Linked DNA regions of Homo sapiens: regions 2, 3 and 4 are each linked to region 1. The links come from fine-mapping of genetic effects on gene expression. A gene starts in region 1. Each other region holds a variant in brackets. All regions are shown on one strand. Distances are from middle to middle. Region 1 holds the start of NSA2 (NSA2 ribosome biogenesis factor). Region 2 has its middle 38 kb from the start of HMGCR. Region 3 overlaps GFM2 (GTP dependent ribosome recycling factor mitochondrial 2). Region 4 overlaps FAM169A (family with sequence similarity 169 member A).

Evidence for each region. PIP is the estimated chance that this variant, and not a neighbour inherited with it, causes the effect. A credible set is the group of variants that fine-mapping cannot tell apart.
Region 2: its variant is the best candidate, but not a certain one, in a credible set for the expression of NSA2 in cultured neurons (Aygun 2021, PIP 0.79).
Region 3: its variant is the best candidate, but not a certain one, in a credible set for the expression of NSA2 in whole blood (TOPMed, PIP 0.67).
Region 4: its variant is the best candidate, but not a certain one, in a credible set for the expression of NSA2 in whole blood (INTERVAL, PIP 0.54).

The regions. Positions count from the first base shown.
Region 1 is chr5:74,765,807-74,768,496 of GRCh38, forward strand. NSA2 (NSA2 ribosome biogenesis factor) reads left to right here and starts at 1,443. Exons shown (of 6, transcript NM_014886.6): 1 at 1,443-1,557. The coding sequence starts at 1,555. It overlaps GFM2 (GTP dependent ribosome recycling factor mitochondrial 2), which reads right to left and starts at 1,311. Exons shown (of 21, transcript NM_032380.5): 1 at 1,132-1,311. RefSeq lists an enhancer at 1,024-1,463.
Region 2 is chr5:75,374,017-75,376,706 of GRCh38, forward strand. It overlaps a transcript of CERT1 not described here and the pseudogene RPS26P26. Among named protein-coding and RNA genes, the nearest start is that of HMGCR, 38 kb to the left of the region's middle. The variant AAAATAAAT/A (reference allele first, on the strand shown) is at 1,566.
Region 3 is chr5:74,733,256-74,735,945 of GRCh38, forward strand. All of the region lies in intron 15 of GFM2 (GTP dependent ribosome recycling factor mitochondrial 2), which reads right to left. Among named protein-coding and RNA genes, the nearest start is that of GFM2, 33 kb to the right of the region's middle. The variant G/A (reference allele first, on the strand shown) is at 1,258.
Region 4 is chr5:74,824,265-74,826,954 of GRCh38, forward strand. The region is part of intron 5 of FAM169A (family with sequence similarity 169 member A); the gene reads right to left. Among named protein-coding and RNA genes, the nearest start is that of FAM169A-AS1, 40 kb to the right of the region's middle. The variant C/T (reference allele first, on the strand shown) is at 1,313.

The sequences.
Region 1 (2,690 bases):
ACCAACATGGTGAAACCCCATCTCTACTAAAAATACAAAAATATTAGCTGGGTGTGGTGGCGAGCGCCTATAATTCCAGCTACTTGGGAGGCTGAACCTGGAGAATCGCTTGAACCCGGGAGGCAGAGGTTGCAGTGAGACGAGATGGCGCATTTGCACTCCAGCCTGTGCGACAAGATTGAAACTCCGTCTCAAAACAAAACAAAAACTGCCTCAAAGCCGGGCGCTGTGGCTCAAGCCTGTAATCCCAACACTTTGGGAGGCCGAGGCGGGTGGATCGCTCGTACCCGGGAGTTCGAGACCAGCCTGGGCAACACGGTGAAACCTCATCTCTACAAAAACTACAAAAATCAGCCAGGCTTCGTGGCGCGAGCCTGTAGCTCGCTACTTTTGAGGCTGAGGTCGGAGGATCGCTTGATCCCGGGAGGTCGAGGCTGCGGTGAGCCGAGCTCGTGCCCCTGCACTCCAGCCTGGGCGACTGGGCGAGATGCCGTCTCAAAATACCCATAAAAACAAAAACAAAAACAAAATACTGCCTCAAATACAAGCACTAAGAATTAATGAAAGTATTCTTTTGGTACAGTTCTTTTTGTTCATCAACTGAATCACGCTGCAAGCTGTGAAGTAATTAAGGGAACTTCTGCAACTGTGCAGTAAAAGGGTAAACCTGATAGTGTATTTAAGTAGACGTACTTTCTGGTAGTTAATTACTTCTTGACACTAGGGGGCCACTAAATACAAGTCCACTCAGCATTTGATTCGGTGCACCAAAATGCCTCAGAAATTTCTGGAATCAGTCCTGTACCTCCAAAAAACCAGAATGTTATCTTCTTCTTTTCTAACAGCTGCAAAGCCCCAGTAGTTCCATTTTTCTGTACACTAAGTTTTCATTCCTCAGTATCCTTCACAATCATGCACACATTACACAGAGTGACCGGAACAAAGATGAGTCGACTTCGCCGAATGATAGAGAAAAACTTCCATACTGAGCGAACACCGAGGGGAGTCCGGAGGCCCTGTTGTCCTCTTCCGTGGCTGGCTGTGTCCGTCGCAGCCTGAAAGGTCAGCGGTACCCAGCGCTGTGACAGGGTCACAGGCGCGCGATGTCTCACAGCTCGGAGCAGTACTCACCTGGCATTAGGCCGCGTGCCGCAGGCCAGCTCTCACCGCTGGGCTCTTGAAGCAGGAGGCGCGAGCCGCGCCAAAGTCTGCAACGGCCTCAAGTCTCGACGCCAGCCTAGGCAAAAGGCAATGTATCTAAACGAAAAGAAAATAGGCTTTCTCCGCTCTACCGCCTCGGGCAGCCACACCTCCACACTTCCGGCGGTGTACCGGCCAAATGCCGCCTGCCAGCAACTTCCGTCCTCCTAGCTAAAAGCGGAAAACAGAGGCTCGGAACCGCTGCGTGGTTCTTGCTCTTCACTCGGCCGTTTTAAAGGGTGACTCTTTCCTGTCCCGGCCTGCGTGGTGTGGGCTTGTGGGTCTTTGAGACCCGAAAATTGAGAGCGTTTTCGCACTCCAGCGGCTGCTCCTGGCGGCTCTGCGGCCGTCACCATGGTAAGGAGGATGCCTCGGACGCTCGCGACACACAGCGTCTGAGTTAGTGGGACCTGAGGACTCTGGGGCGCTGGGGTAGGGGGTGAGCGGTGGTAGGCGGAAATGAGAACTGCCAAGAGAAAAGGATGGTAGACCCGTGGGGTGGGCTCTGAGGAGTGGAAACAACTTCACATTCGAGACACAGACGGTATTTGCCAGAACACAAGCTTTGGAGCAAGATTTTACTCTGTCCTGTTTTCTTTTTTCTTTTTGATCCACCGCTAAGAGTCCTAAAAATTCCTGATTTCACCACAAGCGTGGTTATCAGCCCCAGAGCCTAATGGGAATATGGTTGTCCCTTGTACAGTCTTAGATGTCAGTCCCGCCCCCTTCATTTTACTGCTGAGGAAACTGAAGGCGTCCTTGCCAAAGACCAGACAGCTAATGAATTGCGAAGCCGGGCTTAACGGCCCAGATCTAACTGCCAGGTCCTTTCTCTTTGTGTTACGTCTCTATAATCTGCGTTTCTTTGCAAAATGGCATTCCATACACCCTTCATGTGATTGCTGCAAAGTTTATGTGATAGCAGTTGGTAGCAGCACACCTTGTTGGTTGTTACTTAACATTGCTCTCTGTGCTGGACTTGGCTTTGTATCATTTTTATTTTTGCAGCCTTAAAATACGAATAGACTCACGCCTGGCCGCGTGTTTAAAACGTGTCTAAAATGCAAAAAGCATCCCATACATTGCTGGTGAAAAGAAAAATAATGCACTTTTGGAAAACGGTCTGGCAGTAAACACACGTCCACATGAAGACTTGCATGCAGTTGTTTATTGCAGATTTATTCGTAATCACCCAAAACTGGGAACAACCCTGATACCTATCATCTGGTCAGCGGGTAAACAGTGGTGTATCCATACAATAGCATACTACTCAACAATAAAAAGGATTGAAGTTCCTATACCTGCAGCAAATTGGGTGAATCCCAAAAGCAAGAAACCAGATTCAAAAGGCTATGTACTACTGTTGATCCCTGTTTCATTCTGGGAAAGGCAAAACTGTAGGGATAGGTATCAAACTGAGGGTTGGGAAAGAGGATTGACTTAAAAGTTACATAGGGAATTTTAGGGGGAAATGGAAATTCTTTGTATTT
Region 2 (2,690 bases), 610 kb after region 1:
TAGCTAGTGTTAGATGTTCAGCTTTGCTATTGCAATATTTTGTCATTTTTGTACACAAGGCCAAGGTCTTGGGCCACAGACAAGGCTATAGATCCTACGTTCCAGCTTAGAGCATTCAGCTTTTTTTTTTCTTTTTTTCTCCAACATGGAATGTCACACAGCCTTGCTTCAGTCACTGAAGGAAAAAAAAAAAAAAAAAAGACAAGTAAAAAACTCAGCAGTATGTTTGCTACGAACAGCTGCAAGACTACCAGAACAGAGTTCTCCCACCCTCCATATTCATGGAATGCATGGAATCTCTATTAAAATTTATCATTATGAATGCAAAATTATTAACCTTACAAATTTGAACTTATTCCATCAGCAAGGAATCAAAGGTATATGGAATTTTTCAAAAGTTAGAAAAAAAAACGGGAACAGTCCTCTCTACAGTCCAGGCCTCCAAGATGACAAAGAAAAGAAGGAACAATGGTTGTGCCAAAAAGGGCCACAGCCACGTGCAGCCTGTTTGCTGCACGAACCGTGCCTGATGCGTGCCCAAGGACAAGGCCATTAAGAAATTCGTCATTTGAAACACAGTGAAGGTCGCAGCAGTCAGGGACATTTCCGAAGCGAGTGTCTTTGATGTCTATGTGCTTCCCAAGCTGTTATGTGAAGCTATATTACTGTGTGAGTTGTGCAACTCACAACAAAGTAGTCAGGAATCGATCTCATGAAGGAGAAGGATCGAACACCTCCACCCCAATTTAGACCTGCGGGTGCTGCCCCATGACCCCCACCAAAGCCCATGTAAGGAGCTGAGTCCTTAAAGACTGAAGATGGACTATTCTCTGGAGAAAAATAAAATGGAAATTGTACTTAATATTGCATGCTGAGTGTATCTGTGCCACCTAGGGTGAGAATTTTGTGTGTGTGTTAGACCAAGTGTGAAGTGACACAGTGTATTTTCATGGAGAAGAAAGCTTATTCATGTAAATCAAATCTTAATTGTTTGCAGTCACATCCTTGGCCTCACAATTTGCATAGTTGTGTAAAATAAAGGGGGCACAGGCACCTGAAAAAAAAAGGGCAATATAGGTGAGCAGAGGTAATCAGTGAAAGGTCTCTGGATTTTTACTCCACAACATGGCATTTCTTTCCTCTTAGCCTGCAATAAAAATTATGACATACAATACTACTTACCAAGAATTTAAAAAATGTATTCAAGCTATGAGAGAGAGGCCTGCCTTATTTAATCAACAAACATGCTCAGACCTCTTTGTCAAATGAGTTTAAAAGTTTTTACTGGCGGGGCTAGGTGGCTCGCACCTGTAATCCCAGCACTTTGGGAGGTTGAGGCAGGCGGATTGCTTGAACTCAGGAGTTTGAGACCAGCTTGGGAAACATGGTGAAACCCCAACTCTACTAAAAGTATAAAAAATTAGCCGGGCATGGTGGTGTGTGCCTATAGTCCCAGCTACCCAGGGAGGTAGGAGGAACACCTGAGCTTGAGAAGTTGAGGCTGCAGTGAGCTGAGATCGCTCCAGTGTACTCCAACCTGGGCGACAGGAGTGAGATGCTGTCTC[AAAATAAAT/A]AAATAAATAAATAAATAAATAAATAAATAAATAAATAAATAAAATAAATAAAAATATATATTATATATAATATATATATAAAGTTTTTACTGTTAAACAACTTTGGATCTTATTAACTCTTTACAGAACTTTCTCTAAAGATGATACACACATTATTGAATGTTACTATTTTTTTCCATCACCAAAATTAAGAATGTTCGCTTTCCTAGGGTTTCAATGCTGGGTTCGACTTCATACATTTATCTTCCATAATTATTGTAAAAAAAAAAAAAAAGTTACGTTACAGTAACAAAGATTTTACCATGTTAAGGTTTGAATTTGGATCTTTGTTAGAAAGAAGCTCAATCTGGACTCAAAAAGCCAAATCTGAGTTTGGGCCAATGAATCTTTTCAGCTGTATCTTTGCACACATATACATGTACCCACAAACAATAGACCTCTCTTCCCCAGAGATGAATTTTTTCAGATTCCAAGCTCCTCCCTCCCAGGTCCACAAATGAAAAATCTGTGAACATACACATGCACACACACAGAGAGTCAATGAAACACCGCTCTAAATCCAAGTCTAGAAGCAAATGCTGCTAATATCCTACCATTTATCTTTCAACTGTTTAAAAAATTATTCTTCTCAAATATAATTGAGAGCATGTTTTACACACAACTGCATTCAGATTTCTCTTGCTTTAATACAAAGTTGTATTTCTGCCTTGCTTGGTTGAATATCTGAGAACCTTTGGTAAGGAAGTCATCATAAAGCATCAAGAGGGAGGCCGTTTCAGTGAGGTCATAGTGAAGAAGAGAGAAGGCAGATATAGTTAGAGTGAAACAAAATCTGGTCTTGGATAGAGTGAAACAGCACCACTTTAAAAACCCTAGAGGCCATGGCAAAGAGACACACAGCGAAGCAGGGTGATAAGCCTGTTGCTGTCACGTGCCATCAGTTTTCTGGTTTATTTGATAAATATGGCACAGACTCAGAATCGATAAGAAGTAATGTGTCCAGATCTAGCTATAACAATTCTAAAGTACAAGATATAAAAATTGTCAGCACACTGAATGCAGTGCACTTGTGCTTGAAGAGAGAATCCCTAAAGGGTAAGGCTATATTCCAAAACA
Region 3 (2,690 bases), 33 kb before region 1:
CAAGACAGAATGATCGCTTGAGCCCAGGAGTTTGCGACCAGCCTGGGCAACATGGCGAAACCCCGTCTTTACAAAAAAAGAAAAAAAAAAAAAGACAATTTCAAACAGCCATACATACTGCAGAGACAAAAAGAAGCTGATATAATAATAATAATGGGAGGCTACCTGAGACTGAGTGGTCTAGGAAGGCCTCTCCAGGATGACTTGAGACAGAAATGAACAAACTATAAGCAAAATCCTGAAGAAAAGGAATCCCAGATAGAGGGAATGGCTATACAAGGAACAATCTGCTGTTGGGAAAAAGAGCAAGAAGACTAGCAGCTAGAGATCAGTGGGCAAAAGGAAGAATAGCATCAGATGAGGAAGGAGATGTGTGGCAGGGATCATATCATGTAAGGTCTTGTAGGCCATGATGAAAAGTTTGGGTTTGCACTGCGAAGCCACTGAAAGGTTTTAAGAGGAACAGTAACATCATCTGATTTTATTTTCCAAATATCAATTTAGGAGCTGACAAAAAAGTAAAATGCCTTCAGAAAAACTGGCAATAATGAAGTGCCAAAAGGAGGCTAAAATTACATCATGAATAAACAGGTACTAGTATAACTCTATGATGAATTATCACAACCATTGCGAAAATAATGTATATTTTAGATGGCATTAAGTATGCCATCTAAAGTGATATTTTAATACACTCAATTAACTGATAAGTATACTCTCCCTCTTTTTATAAAAGAAATATGTTAGAAGTTCCACAGACAAAGTGTAGCTAAAGAAAAGAGCTGAGCACTGGATTAATGAGCTAACCTTATCAGTCACACATTCAAAGTATCTTAGGTATACAAACCAGGCCTTTTAGACCCACACTATCCAAATGGTAACCACAGCCATTTGGGGGTATTAATGTTATGAACTGCCAGATGCTGTAAATGTAAAATAAACACCAGGTTTCTGAGACTTACTGTGAAAAAAAGAATGTAAAATATCTCAGTAATATTAATAATTTTAATATTGTAAATATTAGTAATTTTAATATTGATATATTGAAGTAATATTTTGATATATTATGAAAATTTATTTCACCAGTTTGTTTGATGTGGCTATAAGAAAATTTTATATTACATATGTAGGTCACATTATATTTCTACTAGACAATACTGTTCTAGACCCTTGACATCCCAAAGTGGGCTCCAAGGACCAGCAACACTGGTAATGCCTGGAGTCTGACAGAAATGCGGAATCTTAGGTTCTGGACCTACT[G/A]AGTCAGAGTCTACATTTTAACAAGAATCCCAAGAGATGTGTATGTACGTTCAAGGTTAAGAGGCATTATTGTAGATAATATTTTATTTTAAGCACATACAGATACTCAAACAGAGTACATGCGTATGACACTAAGTGACTTTTGGAATAAAAATAACTTTTACTGTAAAATAAATTATTTTAAAATATTTGTGATGTTAGCATTGTAACAGGTATCGAGGGTTATAACTGGACCATGGGGTAAGTACAATAAAAGCACAAAAAAGAAACATGTAGATCTGCTTGAAAGAAGTCTAAGTAAGGGAGCTTTGGTAAATCCCTTCCTCTTGGGGGCTTAGGACCCCTGAGCTAATGCCCATTAATGAGACTTTGGATACCACACTTTTTCTCCTAAAGTAGTTAAAGGCTTGAGTTCTTAGATGCAAAACTGGCTGGTGCAATTTCACTGCAAGCCCACAATTTGAATTTAGGTGCTCATGCTGCATCTGAAATATAAAATGACTCTCAAATATATTTCAAAGAATCCATGGGTTACTTTGTTTGGGCAGCCCCTGCTCTTAAATGCCTGGCCACTCCTGATACAACCAGCTTGGTTAACTTTGATATACTTAGGCAGCCAGATGCATCATCACCTGATCCTTTTCCACTAGAATAAAAACTATACTTAACTGTCCTCAAGGCATTTAAAGTAACAGAAAAATTGCTGTTAGGCCCATTTTAACTTAAATGCTATTCCTTCAGCAAGTGGACACAAAAAGACTCAGTTTCAGTTTCCTTCAGTACTGGGGGCTGTCTTACATCTATATTCAGATTTCTTTCATGTGAACTCCATTTGGGGAGGTGAGCAACTGTAACCTCTACTGGGCTAGGGATCTTCCTTCTTTCTCCCTACAGGGTCCTCAGGAAGACAAGGGGAGGCAATAGAGATTGCTTTTGTTCTCCCATAATCTGTGAGTCCAACTTGTTTTCAAAGGAAAGAGGGCTTCTAATGCCACTTCTAGAACTAGAAGGTCTGTCCTTAAACAAACAGTCTAATATAGGAATTCAGTGAGAGCCTCATAAAGTGTGATGCTTGAGGTGAGACCTAAAGAAAGGGTAAACCTTTTCCAGGCAGGTTAAGTTCATGGGCTACTATTATAATGCAAGAGAGAACAGAAGAAAAGAAATAGCGATGCAAAAAAGAGCACGGTACCTTCAGGAAATCACAATTATTTTACTGTGGGAGCATAAGGTGTGGCTAGGTACTATAGTTTTATTCTAATTTGGGTTAAAGAAGAGGGTCAAAATGAAGGCGGAAGTTTCACAAGAAATGAAGCCAGGCAAGAAGGCTGTGGCAGAGACTACTAGCAGCCTTCCACTCTACTCTGCTGCTGCCTACTTAAAAGGCTGCTTTTACCAGACTTCCTTGCAACAGGCTGCCATATGTCTCAGTG
Region 4 (2,690 bases), 58 kb after region 1:
TACTTCAAAAATAGCGACTAATGATAGTGACCTCAATTGTGTTCTCTGAGCTTATCTACACTAAAATACGGTATGCTATTTACACAAATTTGCATCTTTATATACTTCTTGATATAGGCCAAAAGTCACAAAACTTCCACTGAATTAACCAGTGATTTGTTTTGTATTATTTTAGTAACTGTATGAGACTTTTTCATTAATCTTCTAATTAGCACAGCCCTTTAACAGATAGTCCTTATCATTCCAGGCTGAGAAGGATTTATAAAGTTCAGCTAGTTTTGTGGTAGATAGTGATTACACTTTGGACATGGCCTCATTTTTTTAAATGTATACTTCTTGTTTTTAATCAAAGTCATCCATAACATTGTTTAGAATACAATAGTCATATAAGACTTAAGAAAAAAAAAAAGCAGCTCTGTGACCACTTTCCTGATACACACACATACACACACACACACACACACATACACACACACAAACACACTTTCTACACCCCAAAAGCAACCATTTTGAAGTCATTTAGCTGATATTTTCGGTATTTACTTCTACTTCTCTAAGTAACTTACTATACCTCTTGATTTCTATTTCTTCATTTTTCCATTTTAGGCATAGATAGCTAGAACTTGGAAGGTGAGAATTTAGCTCTTAAATACATTCACACACCCCAATCTCAACTCCAACATAAACACACTTCCCATACAAAAAACCCCAACACCCCTAAATAGTAATTTGTGATTTGTTAGATCAATTTTCAGTATTTACATTATGACTATATAAATGCTTTTGACAACTGAGCCATATAGTGTACCATGAATGTTTATTTTTATCTTTATTCTTACACTTTTTGATTTCCCTTAATAATATTTATTACTATCTCTCTCATCCTCCAAAGTCTCCAGTAACTATGTAAATCTTATCCCAATAAATTCAAATACATCAGGTATTCTATGAACTCTATCTTCTTAAATCAACGTCCCAGAGCTTTGTGATCTGCTCCAATCTAGATCAGTCAATCTTTAGAAAAAGAAATGTCCAAAAGATCATTCTGCAATGATGGAAAAGTTCTGTATCTACTCTGTCCAATGCAGTAGCCACTAGTCACATGTGGCCATTGAGCTCTTAAAATGTGGCCAGCATGACTGAGAAACTGAATTTTAAAATTTAACTTCAACAGCCACATAAAGCTAGTGGTTTTAACAAAGAGCAGCTCCACAACTGACATAGCTGTGATGTTGGATCTCCTTTCTTTTCTCTCTTAGTTTCCTAATCCCATCTTTCCTTCTTGATTTTCTTTATCTTAGGAGAGCACAAA[C/T]TCTACTCACTTCCAGAAAAGGGGTATATAAAAGGTAAATTGTTTTAAGACTGACAGTCTAGAAATTTCCTTCTTTCACTCTCACTCTTTATTAATTTGACGGGGCACAGAACACACTGGAAATCACTTTACCCTTGGTATCTTAAAGGCATTATTCCACTTCTAGTATTCATGTTGCTGTTGAGAACTCTAGTAACGTTTTGATTCTTGATCTTTTGTCTAAATCATTCTCTCACTTTATGGAGGCTTTCAAAATCTTTTCTCTATTCCAGATGCTCTGAAATTTCACAATAATCTTGGTATGAGTGTATCTTAATTCATTGTGATGGATGCTCAATGGGCCCTTTTAATCTGGAAATGTGTGTTCTACAGTTCTGAGAAATGTTAGTGAATTATTTTATTGGTGATTTTTTCTCCTCCAATTTGTTCTCTCCTCCTGAAACATGTATTATTTAAATAATCCCTCTAATTTTATCATCTCTTCCTATTTACCATCATTTAGGTTTGTTTTTTGTTGTTTCTGCACTCCTTTCTGATCAACCTCCTCCAACTCTATTGGATTTGTTTTAGTTTCTAAGAGCTCTGTGAACATTCTTGTTCTTATTTCATAAATGCAATGACTAACTTTTCCAAAAATTTTAAGGGCCACATTTTTTGCATTGTCTTCTCCTCCAAATCTCTTTTACTCTCTTTTGCTTTAATCACCATTTTTCACATCAGTGGCCTTCCTTACCTATGACTATCTGTTCATAATTAAGAATGAGATATTAAAAAGCTAATTAGAAGCTCTGTGTGTATGGTGGGGCTTGCTGGCAATGGACCTCACAGCAGGATGATATGGCTGGAGCCTTTCCTAGGGGAACCATTTATATTGGTATTTTTAGTTTCTTTTTTCTTTTGGCCTAGTCAAACTCCTCAAAGGAGACGTTTTTGCTCATGTAGCCATAAAATAATTTTGAAATACCATATATTCACACATCCTTGTGATATCTAAAAATTTTCATCTAAGTTTCAATCAATAATTACAGAAGATGTTATTTCTGACATATTGTTGACTTTTAAAAAACTATTTTAAAAACAATTGTAGACTTATAGAAAAGTCACAAAAACATTACAAAGAGCTCCCATATACCCTTCACCCTAATGTTAACATCCTATATAGCCAAAATACTATTATCAAAACCAGGAAATTAACATTGCTATAATACTGTTAGCTAAACTACAGACTTTATTCAAATTTCACACATTATTCCACTAATGTTCTTTTCTGTTTCAGAATCCAATCCAGAATTCCTTCCTGCATTTAGTTTAATATATCCCTAAACTCTGGTCTTCGATAATTCCTCCATCTCCCCTTGTCACTCATAACCTTGACACT